2 separate regions of the Homo sapiens genome follow, and region 2 is linked to region 1. Evidence: fine-mapped expression QTL. A gene starts in region 1. The other region holds a variant in brackets. All regions are shown on one strand. Distances are between the middles of the regions.

Region 1 (9,642 bases):
GTCTCTGTGACCAGCAGAATATGACAGAAGTGAGGTTAAAGTACTTCCAAAATTAGCTTTAAAATACCACGCACAGGCAGGGTGCGGCGGCTCACTCCTACACCCCAGCCCTTCGGGAGGCCAAGGTAGGAGGATCACTTGAGGTCAGGAGTACAGCCTCGCCAACATGGCGAAACCCTGTGTCTACTAATAATACAAAAGTTAGCGAGGCATGGTATCACGCGCTTGTAATCTGAGCTACTGGCATGGCTGAGGCAGGACAATTGCTTGAACCTGGGAGGTGGACATTGTAGTGAGCCAAGGTGGCGCCACTGCACTCCAGCCTGGGCAACCGAGTGAGACTCCATCTCAAAAAACATAAATTAAAAAATGAGGGCCGGGCGCAGTGGCTCACGCCTATAATCCCAGTACTTTGGGAGGCCGAGATGGGCAGATCACAAGGTCAGGAGATCGAGACCATCCTGGCTAACACAGTGAAACCCCGTATCTACTAAAAATACAAAAAAATTAGCCGGGCATGGTGGTGGGCGCCTGTAGTCCCAGCTACTCCGGAGGCTGAGGCAGGAGAATGGCGTGAACCTGGGAGGCGGAGCTTGCAGTGAGCCGAGATTGCACCACTGCACTCCAGCCTGGGTGACAGAGCGAGATTCTGTCTCAAACAACAACAATAACAAAAAAGAAATAAAGTGCACATATGGAATCTCAGTGGAGTTCAATTAGCTAAACCAATCTTGAAAAAGAAGGCCAGGTGTGGTGGTGCATGCCTGTAGTCCCAGCTACTCAGGATCCTGAGGCAGGAGGATGATTGAGCCCAGGAGTTCAAGGCTGCAGTGAGCCATGACTGTGCCATTGCACTCTCTCCAGCCTGAGCAACAGAGTGAGATCTTATCTCTAAAAACAAAACAAAACTATGACACAAACACACACATACACACACACACGATTATTTAGCCTTTTTTTAAAAAAAAAGAAAGGAAATCCTATGTAACCTCACATGGAATCCAAACAAGCTGAACTCCTAGAAGCAGAGAGTACAATGTTGCGTGCCAGAGGATGGGGTTGGTGGAAGGAATGGGGAGATGTTGGTCAAATGGTACAAACTTTAAGTTAAAGGATGAGTAAGATCTGGGATGTAATGTATAGCATGGAGATTTTAGTTAATACTACTATATTGTATGATGATTGGAATTTGCTAAGATAGTAGATCTTAACTATTTTCACCACACACTCAAAAGAAGGTGCCTAGCTGAGGGGATGGATGTGTAGATCTGTTTGATCATGGTCATTTCACAGTGTGTGCATACATCAAATCATCACATTGCACATCTTAAGTATATATGATTTTTTTAAATCTGTCAGTTGTACCTCAATAGAGCCTGGGGGAGAAATGGTGCTGGAGAAAACTGGATATCTACATGCAGAACAGTGGAGCTGGACCCTTACTTTATACCACATATAAAAATTAATTCAAAATGAATCAAAAACCTAAATGTAAGCGCTAATGTATAAAACTCTTAGAAGAAAACATAGAGAAAAAACTTCATGGCACTGGAATTGGAAATGATTTCTTGGTTATGAAATCACCCACACAGGCAACTGAAGAAAACTAGATGAATTGGACTACATCAATATTACAAATTTTGTGCATCCAAGGACAATCATGAGAGTGAAAAGGAAACCCACAGAATGGGAGGAAATATTTGCAAATCTTGTGTTTGCTTAAGGATTAATATTCAGTTTATTAAGAACTCCTATAACTCAAGAATAACAACAAAACCAATTTAATTCAGAAAAGGACTTATAATAAAGAAGATAACAGATGGCCAATAAGAACATGAAAAGATGATCAACATAACTAAACATTAGGGAAATGAAAACAAAAGCCACAGTGAGATCACATTACCCCGGTGGTGATGGCTCTTAGCCATTAAATAGGAGGTAACTGTTGGCTGGATGTGGTAAAGTTGGAACCTTGTGCACCTGCTCATGGGAATACAAAATGGTGCAGCAGCTCTGGAAAACAGGACAGTGGTTTCTCAAAACATCAGACAGAATTATCATGTGACCCAGCCATTCCACTTTTGCATATATATCCAAAAGTGCTGAGAACAAGGGTCCAGGATATTTTTGCACACGATGCTCAAAGCAACATTATTCACAATAGCCTGCTGGTGCCAAAGTCAAATTTTAATACATTCAGTTACTTAAAACATATCCGTGCGGTGGCTCACGCCTGTAATCTCAGCAGTCTGGGAGGCTGAGGCAGGAGGATCACGAGGTCAAGAGATAGATACCATCCTGGCTAACATGGTGAAACCCCATCTCTACTAAAAATACAAAAATTAGCTGGGCTTGGTGGCACGTGCCTGTAATCCCAGCTACTCTGGAGGCTGAGGCAGGAGAATCGCTTGAACCTGGGAGGCGGAGGTTGCGGTGAGCCAAGATTGTGCCCCTGCACTCCAGCCTGGTCGACAGAGCAAGACTTCGTCTCAAAAAAACAAAACAAAACAAAATTAAAAGAAAAAAAAACATATCCCAAGGGCAGGCACGGTGGCTGCAGTGGCTCACGTCTGTAATCCCACCACTTTGGGAGGCCGAGGCGGGTGGATCACCTGAAGTGAGAAGTTTGAGACCAGCCTGGCCAACATGGTGAAACTCCGTCTCTACTAAAAATTACAAGGTGGGCACCTGTAATCCCAGCTACTTGGGAGGCTGAGGCAGGAGAATAGCTGGAACCTGGGAGGCGGAGGTTGCAGTGAGCCAAGATCGTGCCACTGCACTCCAGCCTGGACGACAGAGGGAGACTCCGTATCAAAATTAATAAATAATAAATAAAACACATCCCAAACACTCATAGTGTTGAACCATTTAGCATGTGGTTGCTTTGTATACTTCGTGAAATTGTGTCCAATCTCTGCTAGCCATAGATAAGATAAATCCTGGGGCTCTAAAGACTGCAAGCCGTTGCTGCCCTTCAGAGCTTTGTGACTCAGACACCTGTCAGGCTGCTGAGAAACGTGATCTAGTCACGTCAGCCCTCCCCCTGTCTGATCTCCTTCTTCTCTGGGAGTTCTCTGCGCGCCCCCCGCCCACGCTCATTTTTTTCTCTTTTCTGAGTAGTGACCCCCAATTCGAAGCCTGTGGGTAATCTCATGGTGCGTGAGACTCCCTCACCCTCCAACCTGTCAAAGCTTGTGCGCCACCGCCACCTCCTGGGCACATCTTGTTTCTTAATCAGCCACGAAATCACGTGAACACTTCACATGTGGTTTTGTTTTGTTTTTCACATTTAGACTCCTGATCCGTTTGGAGTTTATCCCTGTGAGATCCAGAATTAATTTCATCATTTCTCAGACGGCTAACCATTTGTCTTAGCACCTTTCATTATAAACTGCATGTTTGTTCCACCGCTCTGAAATTATGTTTATGAACCAAATTTCCATGTTACTGGGTTGATGTCTGGATATTCCATTTGTTTCCTGTTCATGTGTCACTAGCACACAGTTTTAATGACAGAGGCTGTTTTCGCATCTGTCGGGCATTGCGCTTTTGTTTGTCCGCGTCGTCTGCGTTATGAGACATTTGTTCCTCCATGTGAACTCCAGGATCAATATGCCTGGTTCCAAAAAAAAAACCTTTTCGTATTGTTACTGGAATCATGTGACATTTCTGAATGAACCTTGGGAGAACCCCTGGTATCAGTGCTATTTTGCAACGTAGTATAGGTGGTCTTGGCTCCTACGGTACATTAGAAAAGTAACAGAAACGCATATTTGAAGCGAAAAATAGATGAACATTTACAGAAAAAAAAAATACCACATTGAAAATGCAGTGGAATCAACTGTTAAAAGTTCGGCGTGATGTTCAGACAGATAAAAAGGAACGGGGCCAGTGACTCCCTGCAGAGATCGAGAGAAGACCGAGCACTCCCAGCACCCGCGGGCTTCTCGCTGTGACCGAACCGCGGGCCGCGCTCGCGACGAGCACTTCCTGGCTGTACCCGCCCAACCGCGCCCTCCTGGTCTGTTCCGGCTCCGCAGTTGCGTCCAGAGGCCTGATCCTTACGTCCGCCTGGTCCTCCGGGCCTGTCTCTGCCTCCAGCCCGGTTCCCAAGGGCGCCCCGGGGCCCTCCCGCACCCTCGCGGAAGAAACTACTACCTCCCCGCACCATAGGCCAAAGCTTCGGCCCGGAGGCTGGAGGCGGAAGTGACGCCAAAGACGCGCCGGCCCCTCTTCCGGCGCCGGCCCCGCCTCCGCCTGTCTTACAGCTGATCCGGTTCTTGCGGCGGTGCGTGCTGGCGCCGGAGAGTTCCGCGCGTGTCCTCGGGCTGTCCGCGGGGAAGCTGGTCCGGGAGTGGGCGCCCGCCCGCCTGCCTCGCGCCTTGCGCCCCCGGCACCGCTTCCAGAAGGGAAAGTCGCCGCCGCTCGCGGTAGACCCGGGCAGCGCTTCCATTCCGCGGAGCTGGTGAGAGAGGGGCCCTTTGCTTCCTTCACTTTGAACAGGGCGTGTTTCTGTGAGAATCTGGCTTCGGCTTTGACGTTTTTTATTTGTTTCTGGCACATTGTGTTGGGACCGAAGCGTAAGGTAGACCCCTGAGCGCCCCGGGCGTGCAGCTCCCTGTGAAAGTTAGCCCGTGGGGGCCAGCGGGAGCGCGCGTCCCTCGCCGCCGGGACTTCCAGGCCCGGCCCTCGGGGCGGGAGGGATGCGGCCGTTGTCCCGCTGGTCTTGGAGTAATCGAATCCACGGTGAACAGTGTGTTTCGACTAACTGTATTTTTTCTCACGTTTTGCTTTAGAAAATCTGAATCTAATAAAAATGTGAACATCTGCTACAAGGAATATCCACTGCAATCGTTTTACTCCTTTTTAGCTTTGGGCCATGTTTTCTCTCTCCCCCAATAAATAAACCTTACGGTGAATTATTATTTGAGTGTAAGTAAGTTGAAATTAAACTGCACACATGATACTTAACCTTTAAATACTTGGTAAAGCGTCTGTTAAGGGTAAGGACATTATCCTACTGAAACCACAATATTAGTATTTCATCTAAGAAAATTAAAATTAGGCCGGGCGCGGTGGCTCACGCCTGTAATCCCAGCACTTTGGGAGGCCGAGGCGGGTGGATCACGAGGTCAGGAGACCGACACCATCCTGGCTAACACGGTGAAACCCCATCTCTACTAAAAATACAAAAAATTAGCCGGGCGTGGTGGCGGGCTCCTGTAGTCCCAGCTACTCTGGAGGCTGAGGCAGGAGAATGGCGTGAACCCGGGAGGCGGAGCTTGCAGTGAGCCGAGATGGCGCCACTGCACTCCAGCCTGGGCGACAGAGCGAGACTCCGTCTCAAAAAATAATAATAATAATTAAAAATAATAAGGTCCGCTGGGCACAGTGGCTCACGCCTGTAATCCTAGCACTTTGGGAGGCCGAGGCGGGTGGATCATCTGAGGTCGGGAGTTCAAGACCAGCCTGACTAACATGGAGAAATCCCGTCTCTACTAAAAGTACAAAATTAGCCTTGCATGGTGGCGCATGCCTGTAATCCCAGCTAGTCGGGAGGCTGAGGCAGGAGAATCGCTTGAACCTGGGTGGCACAGGTTGCGGTGAGCCAAGATCGTGCCATTGCACTCCAGCCTGGGCGACAGAGCAAGACTCCGTCTCAAAAAAATAAAAAAATAAAAAAATAAGAAGGAGGTCATCCACTGTCTACTTTGTGTAATATCTAGGATTCTCAACATTTTTCCAACATTGCGCTGTTGGGTATTTTGGGGACTAAGAGCCCTTCAAGGTTTATCTGTTCCCATCGTTTATGTCTTTTCACCTAGAACAACCCCTGTGGTTTCTCTATCATATTGACTTTGGTGTTGTTTTCTCGTGATACGTTTAAATATTCCTCCATTTCTTGCTGCTTCCTATGAACTTGTAATTGAATTCAGAGGAGAGGTTGGCAAAGGGCGGATAGTAAGCACCTTATGCCTTTGGGTCCACGAGGTCTCAGATGGCTGAGTTCAGCCTTAGTCACCTCATGTCCCATGTTAGCTGTTCCTTCTCTACTCTGTCCTGGTTCCAAGCCCCAGCCTATTTCTGAAAAGGTAAGTGGTCAGCTGCATAGATGACCGTTTAGAGGGTGTAGATTTACTCTGAAATCCCAGAGGGTTGTGCTCTGAGTCTTATCAGTGCTTGCCAGAGGCATCCAGCGGCATCCTGTTTACCATGGACGCTGTGTCAGTGGGTCTGCTGGGTCCTTTCCACCAAGTGCCTAAGAAGCTTGTCCTGCACCCTGAATGTGCACTGATCCACACTTGGCACTGGCAGCCTTACAGGCAACTGTGTAGAGCGTTAACGCTGTTATATACGTTGCCCCTAAAATTAAAAGATCTGCAGAGTGTTGTGCCTCTTTTTTGGTTATAGGTGTCATGAGGTGCAGTAACTTGGAGGTGCATATCGGAGGGGATGTCTTTATGTAATCCAGACTGCTGAACTCGTAGAAACTATGGCCCCTGAATCACAAGCTCTCTGTTGTGTATATTTCATATGAAGTTATCTAAAATGTGTTCATTTTCTGTTCACTGTATCCAACCAGCCTCATGTCAACATAGTGTATGAGTGCAGTCTGAGGGTCAGGTCCTCTGGGGATGATGTTAAGGTGGAGAACTGAATATTACATCCCTTTTTGAAGGAGGGAAAAGAGCCTGTGCAGGTGACAACAAAGTCAACACATTTGTGGGTCTTTTAGCCCAAAGACCTCGCCCCCGCCGACACCTAGTAGTAAGTACAGTTTATACAAGGAGAATGGACATGTTTTTCTGACATGTGAAACTTTACTGTTTTAGTCACCTCATCGGTAGAATAAGAAAGTACAGCTCTAGACCTACCTTTGTCCTGCTGGGGAGTGACCGCAGACTCAGGAGTACAAACTGACGAGACCGGGGCGGGGCACGGTGGCTCACGCCTGTAATCTCAACACTTTGGGAGGCCGAGGTGGGCGGATCACGAGGTCAGGAGATCAAGACCATCCTGGCTAACATGGTGAAACCCCACCTCTACTAAAAATACAAAAAAATTAGCTGGGTGTGGTGGCACTCGCCTGTAGTCTCAGCTACTTGGTAGGCTGAGGTGGAAGAATTGCTTGAACCTGGGAGGCAGAGGTTGCAGTGAGCCGAGATTGCGCCACTACACTCCAGCCTGGGTGACAGCAAGACTCCATCTCAAAAGCAAACAAAACCTGTGACGAGATGGTCGAACATGTACCAGCTAACCGTCCTGGTTCACCACTTCCTAAGTGGATGATGTGGACCAGTTCATGTTATCTGAATCCAGGCTGTTTTAGGTATGAACACGGGTGAAATCTGTGAATGGCTGTTCTGATAATTAAAGGCTTCTGTTGTGTCTTTTGACCCATATACTGCTCTTCAGTAGGTGACGTGGATATTACTAGTCCTCAAGAGAGTAAAGTGGATATAGTGGCTTTCACATATATCATCTGCAGAAACAAGCTAATGCGTGAGGTTTGATAACTGGGAAGTAATGCTTCTTCATCATGATTGCTAGGAAATAGGGATCCAGCCATCCGTGGGTCAGGAGGAATGGAGACTGTACCTTCCACATAGATTCACAAGCTGCCCTGCAGTGGCCTTGGCTTCAGGAAAGGAGCATTCAGACGCTTCCGTCAGCCTCCCAGGATGGCAGCCCCTGACCTGGCCCACGGTAAGTCCTGGTGGGGCTCCTTCTCAGAGCCTCTGCTCTAGGTCCTGATACACAGTGTGTGTATCAGGCCCATGGACGGGGCCTGAGTAGTCACGCTCCGGGTTCCTATTGCAGCTGCTGGAGTGAGCCAGAGAATGCTGACCTGTAAGTCAGCCCCAGGGTGTGTGCTTTGGGGAGGGATGATGTGTAAACTCCTTCATGAGTTTTCTCACCACGGGCAAATGAAGAGTCACGTTCCTCAAGGCGTACCGTTCCATATCTGCAATAGGAGCCTGTTACCATTTCCTGATGGGCGGCATAGCTCACAAACATTTTGTGTCACCAGGCGAAACAGACTACCCTGGCACTGTATGGCTGTGTGTGTGTCTGTGTGTGTTTTCCTGAGGCACTGTATGGCTCTGTGTGTGTGTTTTCCTGAGGCACTGTATGGCTGTGTGTGTGTGTGTGTGTGTGTGTGTGTATTTTCCTGAGGGACTATATTTTCCTGAGGCATTGTATGGCTGTGTGTGTGTGTATTTTCCTGAGGCAGTTTATGGCTGTATGTGTGTGTTTTCCTGAGGCACTGTATGGCTGTGTGTGTCTTTTCCTGAGTGTGCAAGAGTACATGGGAATTCCCTCGCTCTGTATGACTGTGTGTGTGTGTGTGTGTTCCTCAGGCAGTGTATGGCTGTGTGTGTGTGTGTTTTCTTGAGGAAGTGTATGGCTGTGTGTGTGTGTGTGTTTTCCTGAGGTACTGTATGGCTTTGTGTGTGTGTTTTCCTGAGTGTGCAGGTGTATGTGGGAATTCCCTGACACTGTATATCTGTGTGTGTGCGTTTTCCTGAGTGTGCAGGAGTACGTGATAATTTCCTGCTAGGATGGAATGACTTCCGGGTCCATGAGTGTGGAATTAGGGTCAGCTCTGGGTTCTCATGCCTTCTTGCCTTCTTTGTTTTTTAGGAGGTCATGTTTCTAGGGACTCAGTCTGCCTTCATGAAGAACAGACACAGGCAGCAGGGATGGTGGCTGGCTGGCTGATAAATTGTTACCAGGTATGCCAAAACTGTATTTTTTCTTAAAATAACATACTGGTATTCAGCAGATAGACAAGTTTCTGTCTGAGCAGACTTGTCTGCACAGCCTCACTCAAGGACCGAGTCCCTAGTTGAACGCCTCCAGGGAGAAGAGCCTGGCTGGTCAGGTGTTACTGTGAAAATCCTCCCCGTATTTCAGTGTTACTTTTTTTTTTTGAGACGGAGTCTCGCTTTGTCGCCCAGGCTGGAGAGCAATGGCCCAATCTCGGCTCACTGCAATCTCCGCCTCCCAGGTTCAAGCAATTCTCCTGCCTCAGCCTCCCAAGTAGCTGGGATTACAAGTGCCCACCAGCATGCCTGGCTAATTTTTGTATTTTTAGTAGAGACGGGGTTTTGCCATGTTGGCCAGGCTGGTCTTGAACTGCTGATCTCAAGTGATCCACCCGCTTTGGCCTCCCAAAGGGCTGGGATTACAGGCTTGCACCACTGCGCCCAGCCACAACATTACTCATTATTTTCACCCTTGTGCCAAATGCGTGTTTCGTACTTTGCTTAGTGCTCTGACACATGGTAAGGAAGGGGAAGGTATCCTCTCTGGGAACTTATTTCCACATCACGAGTTACCACTTGTTTGTAGTGTGCTCAGGAGAGGGACATAAGGCGAGGGGAGTGCCCAGTGAGCGTGGTGAGAGAAGCTCACATGTTAGAGGTGTCGTTGCGGCCGTGTGACTGGAGGAGAGCGACAGGGTGCGCGTGACTGGAGGAGCGCGACAGGGCACGCGTGACTGGAGGAGAGCGACAGGGTGCGCGTGACTGGAGGAGAGCGACAGGGCGTGTGTGCGGGCAGAGAAGGGTTCCTGGGACCACTGGGCCATGGGGTAGACAGTAGGAGGCCTCACAGTCCCATAGGCGTAGGGCCCCG
Region 2 (8,000 bases), 77 kb after region 1:
CTGCTGGCGCTCGGAGAGGGGGTAGCCGGCTCGGATTCCAGACAGCCCCATGCCAAACAGCAGCCCGGCCTTCCGGGTGACAGGCTCCTTCTTAATCCTCTTCCGCTCAGGGCCCTGCTTCTCTGTGAGGCGGGCGAGGGAGAGAGGGAGGAGAGATTTCATGCCATGGTGTCCTCCAAAGCTAGGTCCTTACCTAATGTTACGGAGCCCCCTGCGTCCACCTGACAGCTGACAGAGCAGAAAGGAAGGTCTGTGTATGGGGAAAGCACAGCGGTGCTGGGAGCATTGGTGCCGCCCACCTCACCTCTCAGCAGTGACTGTGAGACCATTTAAACACCTCGTTACCAGCCCCTCAAGTCTGCTAAGCCTGGGCCTCCACCGAGCATCCACTCACTCCAGGCACCTCTCCTGGGCCTCCCCAGACCTCGTACCACACATGAATGCGGTGGGACAGCTTAGCACCGGTGACCTGGCTCACACAGGACAGGTCTCTGTTCAATACACGTGTCTGTAATTCAATTCCACCTTCCCCGTCCCTCCTCCAAACAGTGCAGATATAAAATGGCAGACACAGTTTAAAACACATCAGTAAATCAAGGCCAACTGGTCAGTACTGTACCTTTCTTCTTGCTTCTAGGAACCTCCATCTCATGCCATGGTGCTTCGAGGAGCGTACCAGCCTTGCAGCACCACAACAGGGACTGGGCTGGAGGCATCTGAAGGCATCAACACAGAGCACTAACAAGACACGGTGTGAGAGCTCGGCTGTTTCCACCTCAGCCTCCTCGTAACAAGCACACCCTGCACTCATCTGACCCGTTACAGAACACTCGGCTGGCGTCTAACGCAACTCACGTGCTGTGTCTTTTAAAAGAGGCAGGAGGCAGGGGCGGGGAAGAGAAGACCCCAAGCACCAAGAGTCGGGGGCACAGAAGATGCCTCCTCCTCTGCCTGACCAGTGCCCTCCTGTGGATGGAAATCAGGGGCCAGACACCTCTGAATCCTCCTCCAGCTGCCCTGCGGGTTCTGGGGTTTTCTAGGTCATGGGGTGAAACTGCAGAGGTGCAGCGCAGAGGCAAGGCTCTGCCAAGGCCTGACTCGGGGAAGAAGGGCCACCAGGAAGACGTGGGCCTCTGAAGCTCTCCTCTGAGGCACCTCCCTTCCCTTCCATTCAGCACTCCCAAGAAGCCTCTCTTCAGGACTTCTCCCTCGGCTGGTGTTTGATCCTACAGAGGTGGGAGACATCTCTAACAACGGACTAACTGGATCCCACACCTGCCCGGTCACTGGAACACAGAACGGTCTTAACTAGTCTCTCAGCTCAGCTCCCAGGGCCCGACTCTCTTGCTGTTCACCACCATGGTCCCCGTGAATGTGCCCGTCGATTTCCTAAGAGGACGCTGCCCACCCACTCTAGTTCTTTCCAAGGTATCTGAGGCTGATTTCTTAGGAATTCGGTCTGGGGCATGCTGAGAATGTGGATTCGTATGTCCTATGGGACAAGCCTGCAGGAAGGCACACACCTGGCCACATCGACCTGCGTCACACTCATGGGCAAAACCCCAAGTACTGCAGGCTGCCATCGCCACCACCAGCTAGTCTGTAAACAGTCCTCAACGCACAGATCTGAGAAAGCACTTGAGCTTTGGCCCCAGCCCCTCATAGAACCTGGCAAACACGGTGGTTGGGGAGGCAGCCTCGCCACCGGCCAATGAGCCCCAGCCTACAGCCATCATTGGCGTAGCCACACCTTAGCAGTGAGCTTGGGTCACAGGCGCTTGGCTGTGGGTCTCTGCGTGCGCCCCATGCTTTCCCTGCACCCTCCATGCTGCCCGGGGGCCGGCCCTCCCCAGGCTTGCTTCTCATAGCCACCTCTAAACAACAGAAGCAGGCCTGCGGCTGCCTCCCTCTAGGAAAGAGGCGACGAAGCTGCTGGAGAAACCCCAGCTCCCCCACCGATAGCCCTCAAGTCCTCCTCTCTCCAGGAGGGGCCCACACTCACCGAGCAGCTGGTCTGCCCACAGTCGCCTGGAGAAGCAGCTGAGAACCTCTGCAGGGCCCTGATCCCCAAGACCTAGCCACGCACATTCAGAGGCCTGCTCCCTCCGTCACCCAGAGCAGGGGGGTTAATGTTTTGGAGACACGAAGCCCCCTGAGAACACGAGGAAAGCAGAATCCCCGAGATACACAGACTTTGCAAAGCTGCACACAGCACAGGAGACTCCTGGGAGCAGACGGCATCTCCTTATTCCATTGACCATCAGAAGTGAAAAGCGAGTGGGCCCCACTTCTGTGCTGCATGTGGCCACTAGGGGTGGACACAGGGAGGAGCTGGGGCAGAGTTGGGGTTGCGGAGGGAGGAGCTGGGGCAGAGTTGGGGTTGCGGAGGGAGGAGCTGGGGCAGAGTTGTGGCTGCGGAGGGAGGAGCTGGGGCAGAGTTGGGGCTGCAGAGCGAGGAGGCGGGGTGGTGTTGGGGCTGCGGAGGGAGGAGCTGGGGCGGTATTGGGGCTGCGGAGGGAGGAGCTGGGGCAGAGTTGGGGCTGCGGAGGGAGGAGCTGGGGCGGTGTTGGGGCTGCGGAGGGGAGGAGGCGGGGTGGTATTGGGGCTGCAGAGGGAGGAGCTGGGGCAGAGTTGGGGCTGCGGAGGGAGGAGCTGGGGCAGAGGTGGGGCTGCGGAGGGAGGAGCTGGGGCGGTGTTGGGAGGAGCTGGGGCGGTGTTGGGGCTGCAGTATGTTTACATCCCGAAGTGCAGGCGTTGCCATGCTCTTAAGTTATCAAAGGACCCTAGGAGGCGTGTGTCAGAGGAACAGGCAGAGGCAAAGGCGTTCCTTAGAAGTCAGTCTTTAGGCTGGCAGGCCAGGAGCCCACGCTGCGTCCCCGCTCTGAGGGGCAGCAAAGAGCTGCTTTGTGGCAAACAGAACATGTCCCACTCCTGCAGGGCGGCCATCTCAGGTGCAGCTCACACCCAACATGTGCAGAATGGGCAGGACTCGGTGCCCCCAGAGACTTCCTGGGTGGGCTCCAGGGCCTGAGCCTCAGGGTCAGGGCCACATCCCTCCCGCTCCCCACCAGGCCCTCCCTCTGCTTCTGCTCTGAGCTTTGGTGAAGAAAGCCTGAGTTGGCTTCCCTTACGCGGCCAGGACAGCTTTACAGGGCTGGCTCCCAGCAATTCGCATGGAAGGTGCTGCCAACCTCCTGGTGAATTCTGGTGCCTGGAGCCACCACAGGGACCTTGCTCTGCCCCACACTCAGGAAAAGCTTGCTCCCAGGAAGCAGCAACTTTTCACCCAGCTCTCCCTGTCCTGAAACAGGACTTTTTACTTGTCCTGACACCAAAAAAGTCCAATATGAAACCAGATCTCCCAGGATGCCAATCTCTCCACTGTGAAACAAGCACCTGCAGCTACGAGCATCTACAACGCCCACAACACGCGCCAGACACCACCCAAGCTCCGGAGCCCAGCAAACTTGCACGTCTGTCAGCTCTGAGACACTGGCCACTCCAGTGGCTTCTGGGGTAGAGGGAAAGCCCCACCCACGGAGCGAGACCCCCATGTGCCACAGCCCATGGCTCAACAATGCCTGCTCTCCATTCCAACCCAGCGACACCATGGTCTGAGAGCAGCTGAGCGGGTCCTTGACGTGCACACACACAGCCCGTACCTGTACCTGCACTGTCAGGCACCACACAAGTGGGTCCCGCACTGCCTGCCTGCCTGCCCCTCCTACCCCAGGCCTGGGATGACCTGGAGCCGTGTGCCCCTGAGAAACGCTCCTCTGAGAGGAGAGGCTGCAAAACCTGCTCCCTGCCCTCCACACAGTGCAGAGCGCAGGAGGCGCGGGGTGTTGTCTGCAGGTAAGAAAAGGGTGAGAGCATCTGGAGCTACCCCTAGGACAGCCAGCAAGTTCCTGTAGCATTCTGCAAATTTCCTGTTTCTACCGTCCAAATGGAAGCCAAATACAATTTCTATGAATTCCAAATGGTATTCACCAAGTTGCAAAGTGGAAAACTGGCAAGTCTAGGGACTAAGTGCGGCTACAGCACCACAGACAGATGTGGCCCTGGGTGCCTCTGACCCCGGGGTGGGGGTGGGAGCCACTCCACAGCACTCAGAAGCCCCCTTCCACCCCTGCCCTGCAGTCGGAACACGGCCTGCAGGCTCTGAGGGCTTTGTGGGCTCAGGCAGCCTGGGGCTGAGGGCAGAGGTCCAGGGAGAGCGGTGGAGGGTGCCAGGAGAGGCTGTGTCTTCCCAAGTCAAGCATGTTGGCGGTGGCACCTGTGTCCGCTGACCTGAGCCTGGGCGGCCACCCACCTCATCTTTAAGAAACAAGGCCCGTAGGGCCTTTCTTCAAACCACATCCACCTCGCCAGCCCTCTGAGG[C/T]TGGCAGCACACCTCACTACCCAGCTGGCCAGTGGAAGATTCCACGGAACCCTCTCCTCCTCAGCACAGAGCTGAGACCCCTCCATGAGCCCCATGCCCCTTCCTGGTGCTGGTGCTGCTGGAGCACGGCCTTGGCCTGGGGCAGCAGGGGCCACAGTGGACAATGCTTTTGGGAGCTGGAGCCCACTTCCTGCCCCTGCATCCAGCCATGGCCTTTCTGAGGCAGCAGAGACTGGAGGCGAGCGTCCCGAGGCAAACGGCGGTGGCACCTGGCTCTGTGCAGGTGGGATGGGGGGGATGTGACGCGCCTGGGGGTGCCCTGTGCTGGTGGGATCGGAGCGGGGGCTGTGACCTTCCCGAGGGGTGCTCTGTGCAGGTGGGATCGGAGGGGGGATGCGACCTTCCTTGGGGTGCTCTGTGCAGGTGGGATGTGATGTGGGGGGCCTGCAACCTTCCTGGGGGTGCTCTGTGCAGGTGGGATTGGGGGGGGCTGTGAACCGCCTGGGGGTGCTCTGCAGGGAGTGTCTTCTCTATCTGGCTGCCTTTTTTTTTTTTTTTTTTTTTGAGACAAGGTCTTGCTCTGTAGCCAAGGATGGAGCACAGTGGCGCAATCTCAGCTCACCGCAGCCTCCACCTCCCAGGCTCAAGCGACCCTCCCACTTCAGCCTCAGGAGTAGCTGGGACCACAGGTGGGTGTGCCTCTGGCTGCTTTTAACATCCTCCCTTTGCTGTTCTGAAAACTTCACGTCAGAGTCATATTTAAATGTGTAATTACTGCTCTTTCTCCTGCTTATAATTCATTATACTTTTTGAATTTGAGGCTTGTGTTTTTATGAACCTTGAAAAGCCCTCTGCTGCCGGCCTCTGGAGCCACCGTCTCCCTGCCCTGCTCTCTCCTCTGCCGAGGTGCCTGTTAAGCTGCATTCTCTCCTCCACAGCTCCCCGCTTCCTGCAGGCTTCCTGTCTCACTTTCTTTCTGTGCTCCAGAGTCTAGGCAATCTCTTTTGTTAGAACTTCCAATTCACCAATACTTTCTTATGTTGTGTCTAATAAGCTACATCATCTGCTCACTGGGTTTTTTATTTCAGTGATTATAGTTTTCATTTCCAGATATTCCATATGCCTTAAAAACATCTGCATGATACTCCATGGTTTTAACTCCCCTGATGAATACTGTGCATTTAACCATCCCAGCACGTGAGGTCCCTGGGGCTGACCCCTGCTGACCCTCTCAGAACAGCTTTCTTCCTCAACGTCTTGTAATTCCAACCAGGCTCTTCGTCTGTCTACACTCTGGGAGCCGGAAGGCCGGGATGAGGAAGGTGTGTCTCTCCAGGGAGGGTTTGCTTTTGCTGTGGTGGGGGCCCCAGGGAGTGTGGGGCACTTCCAGCAGCATAAAACAGCACAAATCCAAATGCCAGCCCCACCAGAGGGCAGGAATGGGTCAGAAGTCTCATTGGTGACCTCTCAAAGCCCCTCATCCCTCCTCAGCACCTGTCCCTCTTAGCTGGGGGGACAGTGTCTACCCTGATAGCCCAGTGTCCAGGAAGTGTGGCCCTCTCGAGGGGACAAGCTTTCCGTGGGGTCTGGGCCCAAAGCCCCTTCCTCTACCTCCCTGGGAGGTCTGAAGCTGGGCTCCAAGGCAGAGACCCTGAGGTTGGGCCCCAGGGACGTGGAGGTGTGTGGCCTCAGCTGCTCATCTGAACAAATGCCTTTTGTATCAATCATTTAGCACCTCTAATTTCTAGGCTTTTCTAGCAAGAGTCTTTTAGGAGACACAGGCCACGATACTGTCAACATAGGAAAATGTGCAACTCCTGCGTCCCACCGTAAAACTCGAAGACGTCAAAATACATTCTTGATTCTGCTCCACAAAGGGATGTTTCCATGGCGATATTTTCAAACAACAGAAAGTTCACGGCCGATGGCGGTTACAGCTCATGGAACTGATGGGCAGGGCCGGGTGCAGCTTTGTAGCACGGCTGCTGCTCACAGATTCTCTTCCATTTGACTAAAAACCATGCTGTCCACACCAAACATCTGGCCTCATCCGGATGTTCAAAGCCATGAAATACAGCACTTCTGGCCAAGAAGTCTAAATCACAGCCGATCTACACGAGGCGGATGGTCCACAACGCCAAGTTCCTACCCGGGCACTGAGCTCAACGCTCGCACAACTCCAAACGAGGGCGCAACCATATTCCCACTGACATCCTCCTTGGGGCAGCAAGACAAGCTCCGAACAGCCTGTCCTGGGCCAACAAGAGAAGCTGGCGGGCGCCCGCTGAGCACTGTGAGCCATCTTGTGGTGAGACTGGCTTCTCCTTCCAATCTCCAGGTTTCTCTCTCTTTCTGCCTTCTTTCTGTCAGTTACCGTCATTGATCACTTAAAGAAAGACAGGGCCTACCCCTGTCTGCTGCGTGACCTCAGCCCTCCCGCCTGCCGATGGGAGCTGGGTCATCTCTTACGCCTTTCAGCTTTGGCTTCTTCCGCAGTGTATGTGAAGGGGTCACACAGAGGTAAGGCTGTGCGTCCAGCCCTTGCCTGCACAACCTCCATGCCTTCCCCATCTCCAGGCCGGGGTGGGGTAGGGGTAGGGTGGGGTGGGGCGGAAGGACCAGTTCCACAGGAAGCCTGTGGAGGCAAACAGGGTTATGTGGCAAGGGTGGGAAGGAGCAGGGCCTGAGCCCCATGGTGGTTTCACCAGCATCCAGCGGTCACCATGGTGAACAAGAAGCCAGGAAGGAAGGAAGCAATGTCGGCAAAAGGGCTCAGATGACAACCAAACAGAACGGTTTCCCACCCTGGGCCTCCTTTCCACACACACAGCATCGTGGGTATTTTAAAATAAACAAGATCAACGTCCAAACCTGCGCTGAGGCCTGAGCTGTGTCCGTCACTCCTGCAGGGCACAGGCCTGCCTGGCCGAATGCATGGGCGGTGAGAGCACAGGGCTGGGGGGACCCCTCTGTCGAGGGGCCACAGCTCCTCACACAGCAGAGCTTTATGGATGAAAGGGCTGAGAGGCACAGACAGGCTGAGAAATGGGCCCAAAGTCCCACAGCATGGAGCCAGGAGGTAGCAGACGGCCCCTGCCCGCCCCCCTCACTTGGCTGACTGCTCCCACGGCAGCCACCACCTTTATCCTGAGTCCCGGGGTCCTCCATCAAATCGCTGAGCCTCGGGTGGTCTTGTGGACCCCAGCTTGTCTGTGTTGTGTTGACAACATGGGCCTGGCTACCGGCCTAAGTGCACTTCTGAGGGGTGTCAGGGAAGCCTTTGCTGCGGCTTGGGGATTACAGAATTTTAAACAGCAAGAACCTTCCCTTTGCTAGTCCAAGCTTCCCTTTGTATGAGAAACTGCTTACGTCTAGAGAGGAAAAATGGTTGAGAAATAGGAGGACCAGAGACCAATCACGCGGAGTTCTTAATCATGTGAAAATATTTTATTTTGACGTGCTTTTTCTTGAGTGCCTGAATGTGGTGGCTCTTAGGGTAACCCCAGAATCCTCACTGCGGCAACAAGACCTGGCCACCACCCTCACCTCGACCACCACGGCCTTCGCTGCAGCCCCACTCTGACTCCCCGGGGGCTGCTCACGTGCCAGCACCCACTGG

Direction of the effects. Alleles are on the strand shown, and positions count from the first base shown. SD is a standard deviation of normalised expression in the study named.
For the expression in prefrontal cortex of the gene that starts at base 4,258 in region 1, allele T in region 2 goes with a higher level than allele C (large effect, 1.8 SD a copy in ROSMAP).

The links. PIP is the estimated chance that this variant, and not a neighbour inherited with it, causes the effect.
Region 2: its variant is the best candidate, but not a certain one, in a credible set for the expression of ZNF778 in prefrontal cortex (ROSMAP, PIP 0.85).

Annotation. Positions count from the first base shown.
Region 1 is chr16:89,213,446-89,223,087 of GRCh38, forward strand. ZNF778 (zinc finger protein 778) reads left to right here and starts at 4,258. Exons shown (of 7, transcript NM_001201407.2): 1 at 4,258-4,465; 2 at 7,552-7,707; 3 at 8,647-8,738. The coding sequence starts at 7,683. It overlaps ZNF778-DT (ZNF778 divergent transcript), which reads right to left and starts at 4,208. Exons shown (of 1, transcript NR_186410.1): 1 at 1,715-4,208. RefSeq lists enhancers at 2,796-3,090, 4,040-4,089, 4,614-5,144, 5,145-5,674.
Region 2 is chr16:89,291,062-89,299,061 of GRCh38, forward strand. It overlaps ANKRD11 (ankyrin repeat domain containing 11), which reads right to left. Exons shown (of 13, transcript NM_013275.6): 5 at 1-122. It overlaps LOC124903757 (keratin-associated protein 5-2-like), which reads left to right and starts at 5,067. Exons shown (of 2, transcript XM_047435030.1): 1 at 5,067-5,703; 2 at 6,130-8,000. LOC105371414 (a long non-coding RNA gene) reads left to right here and starts at 5,067. Exons shown (of 3, transcript NR_136339.1): 1 at 5,067-5,703; 2 at 6,130-6,901; 3 at 7,090-7,256. RefSeq lists enhancers at 102-948, 2,642-3,487, 3,488-4,334, 4,335-5,180. The variant C/T (reference allele first, on the strand shown) is at 4,382.